Linked DNA regions of Homo sapiens: region 2 is linked to region 1. Evidence: fine-mapped expression QTL. A gene starts in region 1. The other region holds a variant in brackets. All regions are shown on one strand. Distances are between the middles of the regions.

What was found. PIP is the estimated chance that this variant, and not a neighbour inherited with it, causes the effect.
Region 2: its variant is the best candidate, but not a certain one, in a credible set for the expression of RFC5 in whole blood (TOPMed, PIP 0.75).

Annotation. Positions count from the first base shown.
Region 1 is chr12:118,015,282-118,018,190 of GRCh38, forward strand. RFC5 (replication factor C subunit 5) reads left to right here and starts at 1,422. Exons shown (of 11, transcript NM_007370.7): 1 at 1,422-1,611. The coding sequence starts at 1,547. RefSeq lists an enhancer at 1,130-1,299 and a silencer at 1,664-1,713.
Region 2 is chr12:118,039,933-118,042,841 of GRCh38, forward strand. WSB2 (WD repeat and SOCS box containing 2) reads right to left here. Exons shown (of 9, transcript NM_018639.5): 4 at 2,909. It also overlaps a transcript of RFC5 not described here. Among named protein-coding and RNA genes, the nearest start is that of WSB2, 20 kb to the right of the region's middle. The variant G/A (reference allele first, on the strand shown) is at 1,781.

The sequences.
Region 1 (2,909 bases):
AAACCAGTTTTATCTTAAAAGAAAGAAAGAAAAGTTTAAAAATGGCATGCTAATGATCTAAGCCCCCAGTGTTAAAGTTTCCTGGGAGCAAGCAGAGTAGGGGCACTGTCACATCACAAGCCCTAGCTGATCCCCTTCTTCGGGGTCCCCAGGCAGGGGCTAGGGTGAAGCCATAACTGCCATCACATACTTGCCACTGTCCCTCTGCTGTGTTCCTGAAGCAGGTGACAGTGATGTAATCCTATGCAAAGAGTATTGCTACCTCCTAATCAGAACACTGCTGACCCCAGGCCAGCCTCAAAAATCCTCCAGGATTTTTGTCTTCCTCATCATGTTAAAAGAAAAAAAAAAAGAAAAGACTTCAATATGGATGCTTTGCATGCTCATTGCTGGAAAATACAGACCAGGCCAGGCGCAGTGGCTCACGCCTGTAATCCCAGCACTTTGGGAGGCTGAGGCGGGTGGATCACTTGAGGTCAGGAATTCGAGACCAGCCTATCCAACATGGCAAAATCCCATCTCTACTAAAAATACAAAAATTAGCCAGGCGTGGTGGCGCGCGCCTGTAATCCCAGCTTCTCCGGAGGTTGAGGCAGAGAATCGCTTGAACCCGGGAGGCAGAGGTTGCAGTGAGCCGAGATAGCGCCACTGCACTCCAGCCTGGGTGACAGAGCAAGACACCAAAAAAAAGAAAAGAAAATACAGACCAACAAAAAAGAAGAAAATAAAAGTGATCTAGAATTCTCCTCGCCTCAGGAAAAAAACCTAAAATGTTGATATCGATTCTCCTCAGTATCTCAGATCACAAGGACCTTGTCCTCTGTGTTCATGAACTAGACCTTCCAGCGACACAGATTAACCCAACTGGAAGTTTCTGTTTGTTTTTCTCTGGAGTCGTTTTCTGGAGGTTGGTTCCCTAAACTTTTTGGGCGAGGGGCACGGATTCCGGAGATAGGTAGGTTGCAGTTGTGTTTGTTTGGGGTTGTTTTCATTTCCAAATATTCACCTCCCAGCTTGGGGGCCGAGAGGTATCTCAAGCCTTCTTTCGCAAAGGCATCTATATTCAAGACCCAGCCGTTTTACTCGGTGTTGTTTTTTTTCTTAGATTTTTTTTTTTTTTTTTGAGCCCCGGCAGCTTTTGTTCCTTTGAATTTAAGTGTTTGAAGCTTGGCGATGGCAGGAATTGGCTTTGGCCTTGAGATCTTAATATGTAATGATGACTGGGGCTGCAGGGGGCCCTGCCTCTCCCGCTGCCCTGCTCTGGAAGCGCCTGGGTATCTGAGAGTTCAGAGCAGGCTGGAGGGGCGGAGCTTGGAGGGACGCTGGCGGCCCGCGCCTCCGGTAACCTAGCAACCGACGCCCTAGCAACGCGAGGGGGCGGGACCGAGGGAGGAAGTCGGAAACTGGTGGCCGCGTCTCGCGAGAGTTGCTTTTGCGCGCGAACTGTAAGTGCCAGGGTCTCAGGGTCAGGTCGCGGCTGGTCACTGTGCAGGCGCTTGGGTGACGCGACGATCTCAGCGGATCTGGTCACCTTCGTCTCCCCGCCATGGAGACCTCAGCACTCAAGCAGCAGGAGCAGCCCGCGGCGACCAAGATCAGGAACCTGCCCTGGTAGGAGGAGGCCGAGCGGCGGCGGTGGGCAGAGGGGGCCAGGCGGCCGCGCGGGGAGGAGGTGGCTGGGGTGGCAGGTGACCGGACCCCAACCCGACCTCTTCCCGTCGTCTCCAGGCCTGCAGCCGGGACCGACCTGCAGAGGTTTCCCCCGACACCCCCCAGCTACCCAGACTCGTCCGTTCTGTTTAGGGCTTTTGCCAGTTCTCACCCTTTCACCCCCAGCTCCATTTGCCGAAGAAGAAGGCGGCTTTCGCACCTGGTGACAGCACAGGGGTTCGATCCCGCGTCTCCTGACGCCTGCAATGGCCTCCATGCCAAAATGCCCTCTTCCCACTCTTCAAAACCTGCGATGCGACTATTGGTCACATTTTAAACTAGTAATAACGCTCCCTGGTCAACTTTTATTGAATGGCATATTATTAGATTAGCAGACGCCCTGTTAGATGTTCGATCCTTACAAAGACCGTAGGAGGTAGGCACCGCTTCAAATTTTACACAGGAGGAAACTGCATTTTAGAAAGATGTAATGACTTCCCTATGGTCCAAGGGAGAAAATTGGCTTGGAGGTGAATCTAGGAAGTCTGAATTCAGATCTTGTACTCTTAACCATCCTACTTAAACAGCTATGTTCTCGCAATGCTTCCAAGACTTTGAAGCAATTTGGCTTGGCTTCGAAAAGCTGCAAGTTGTCATTGTCTAGTAACTAGTTCAATTTGTCTTTATTGTGGTTAAAAAAAACCCAGAAGATTGACAGTTGTAACTATTTTATGTATTTACGTATTTTTTTTTTTTAGAGACAGGGTCTCGCTCTGTCGCCCATGCTGGAGCGCAGTGGTGTGATCACAGCTCAGTGTAACCTCAAACATTGGGGTTCAAGCCATTCTCCTGCCTCAGCCTCCGAAGAACTGGGACTTTTAGAGGCGAGCTACCAAGCCCATCCTGTAACCATTTTAAAATGTACAATTCAGTGGCATTAAGTACATTCAGAATGCAGTGTACTGTTGTGGAGTCTTCCCGCTATCTAGTTCCAAAATTTCATCACCCCAAATGGAAATCCTTTACCCATTGACAGTTACTCCCCATTCTCCCCTTCCTCTAGCCCCTGGCAACCACTAATCTGCTTTCTATCTATGGATTTGCCTATTCTGGACATTTCATGTAAGTGGAATCCTACACTATGTGGCCTTTTGTGTCTGGTTTCTTTCACTCAGGATCATGTTTTCAAGGTTCATGCATGTTGCTGCTTGTATCAGTAGTTAATTTCTTGTTATGGCTGAATCATATTCCATTGTATG
Region 2 (2,909 bases), 25 kb after region 1:
CCGGAGTTTCACCATGTTGGCTAGGCTGGTCTCGAACTCCTGACCTCGAGTGATCCGCCCGCCTTGGCCTCCCAAAGTGCTTTAATTAATATTTTTAAAAAGTTAGTCATGGTGCCTGTAGTCCCAGCTACTCCAGAGACTGAGGCAGGAGGATCACTGGAGCCCAGGAGGCAGAGGCTACAATAAGCCGAGATCGCAGCATTGCACTCCAGCCCATGCAACACAGTGAGACTCTGTCTCAAAAAATAAAGGTCAATCATGGTTTCTTCAGCTGTCAAATCTCAGGGTGCTGGGAGTACTGAATAAATTAAGGCATGTTAGGTCAGTGGGGCAGCGCCTGTCAGCTGGGAACCAACTTTATTCCCCTCCTCTCCTTGAAAAGCTCTCATAATTGGCCTACTCCATCCCGCCCACTCTTGGTCACTCTCACTTGGTCTTTCCTTCCAAGTCATCAAGTGATTTCCAGAGCCACTGCATGGACCTTCCTGAGATGGTGGCAAGCTGCCTCAGTACACACATTAAGCCAGCATTTAAAAAGGCACTGCCAGCCGAGCGTGGTACCTCATACCTGTAATCCCAGCACTTTGGGAGGCCGAGGTGGGCAGATCCCTTCAGGTCAGGAGTGCAAGACCAGCCTGACCTTCATGGCAAAACCCCGTCTCTACTAAAAATACGAAAATTAGCCAGGCATGGTGGCACACACCTGGAGGAGGCTCTGTCTCAAAAAAAAAAAAAAAAGAGGCACTGCCTTGGAGAAGCTGTCCTGATCAGCAGCACATCTTAGACTGTGGGATTACAGGTTCCACAGTACTGGGCAGAAACCACCTAGAGTAGGCCAGGCGCAGTGGCTCACGCCTGTAATCCCAGCACTTTAGGAAGCCCAGGTAGGCAGATCACTTGAGGTCAGGAGTTTGAGACCAGCCTGGCCAACGTGGTGAAACCCTGTCTCTACTAAAAATACAAAACATTAGCCAGGTATGGTGGCTTACGCCTGTAGTCCCAGCTACTTGGGAGGCTGAGACACAAGAATGACTTGAACCTGGGAGGCGGAGGTTGCAGTGAGCTGAGATCGTGCCACTGCACTCCAGCCTGGGTGACACAGTGAGACTCCGTCTCAAGAAAAAACAAACAAACCAAAAAAACACCTAGAGTTATCTTGGTGATCAGATGCCTTCAGATGAGGATGCATGTGCACTGCCTTAGTTTGTCTGACAAGTTGCTATGGACTAAATGTGCCCCCCACACATAAAGCCCTAATCCCCAATGTGATGGTATTAGGAGGCGGGGCTTTTGAGAAGTCAATAGGTCATGAGGGTGAAGCCTCAGGAATGGGATTAGTGCCCTTAGAAGAAGAGACATGAAAGAGAGAGATCCCTGCCAGATGAGGATGCAGAGAGAAGGTGGCTGTTTACAAGCCAGGCAGCAGGTGCTCACAGACACCAAAACTACTAGCACTTCGCTCACGGACTCCCCAACCTTCAGAACTGTGAGAAATAAATGTCTGTTGTTTAAGCCACCCAGTCTCTGGCATTGACTAAGATACAAGTTTTCAGGCTCATTGCTAAAAGAGCAGGAGAAAGGTCCCTCCCATGGCTGTGTGGAGCTGGACAGTCATAGCTTGGGAGAGAGTGCCAGTGCCTTCACACCATGGGGACAAGTGGCCTCTTCATGACCCTCCTTCCAATCCCTCCAGCCCCTGATCCTCTTCATGACCCTTTACCACTGCCTCCTTCCAATCCCTCCAGCCCCTGAGCCCCATCCAGGGCTGGAGGAATTGAAA[G/A]ATGGCATTGCAATAAATTCCCCTCTCTTATGTCACTTTTTTTTTTTTTTTTTTTTTTTTGAGACAGAGTCTTGCTCTGTTGCCCAGGCTGGAGTGCAGTGATGCGATCTCAGCTCACTGCAACTTCTGCCTCCCAGGTTCAAGTGATTCTCCTGCCTCAGCCTCCCGAGTAGCTGGGACTACAGGCGCCCACCACCACGCCCAGCTCATTTTTGTATTTTTTAGTAGAGATGGGGTTTGGCCATGTTGGCCAGGCTGGTCTTGAACTCCTGACCTCAGGTGATCCACCCGCCTCAGCCTCCCAAAGTACTGGGATTACAGGCGTGAGCCACTGTGCCTGGCCTCTTATATCACCTTTCTAGTTAAGGATCAATCCAGAAATGTATGGAATTCCTTATTGGGCCACCCCTGTATATAGTTTGCTCGAGGCAGAATTTCACAAAACCTGATGCCCCATAGCCTGAGAGAATTATTCTAGGCTTAGAGTCTGCTTCAAAAAGAAAGTCTTTCTTTCTAACAGGAAGCACCCAACAGGGACTTCTAGATCAGTGGTTCTCAACCTGGGGAGACCTTGCCCTTCACAGGACATGGGGACTTTTTTGCTTGTCACAACTGGAGAGGATGCTACTGGCATCAAAAGAGAAGAGACCAGGCACGCTGCTCAGTGTCTTAGAATGCACAGGAGAGCCCACGACAAAGGGTTATCCAGCCCAAAATATCCATAGTGCCGATGAGAAAACCTGTTCTAGATCAAATATTTTTAACAGGGGCAATTCACCCCAAGAGGGTACAAACTAGTTCTTGGTAGCCAAAAAAATCTTAACATTTTTTTACATACAAAGCATAGACATGCATTCAGCACATAAGTAGATATACAATATATCTTCGATATTAAAATAGCCTAAATAGACACACAGTATATGTTCGGTATTAAACTCTATTTGGTATAGTATTATCTTTGGGGCGGGCAGGGGCGATTAGGAAAAAACTGTCTAAAAGGCTCCTTAAGGGGCAATCACAGAAAAAAACATCAAGAAACACTGTTTTAGATAAAAATGACACTGGTAAAGTGGAGAAAGCAAATACAGTATTTTTGGAGTTGCCGAGTAGTTCCTTCACTTCCCATACC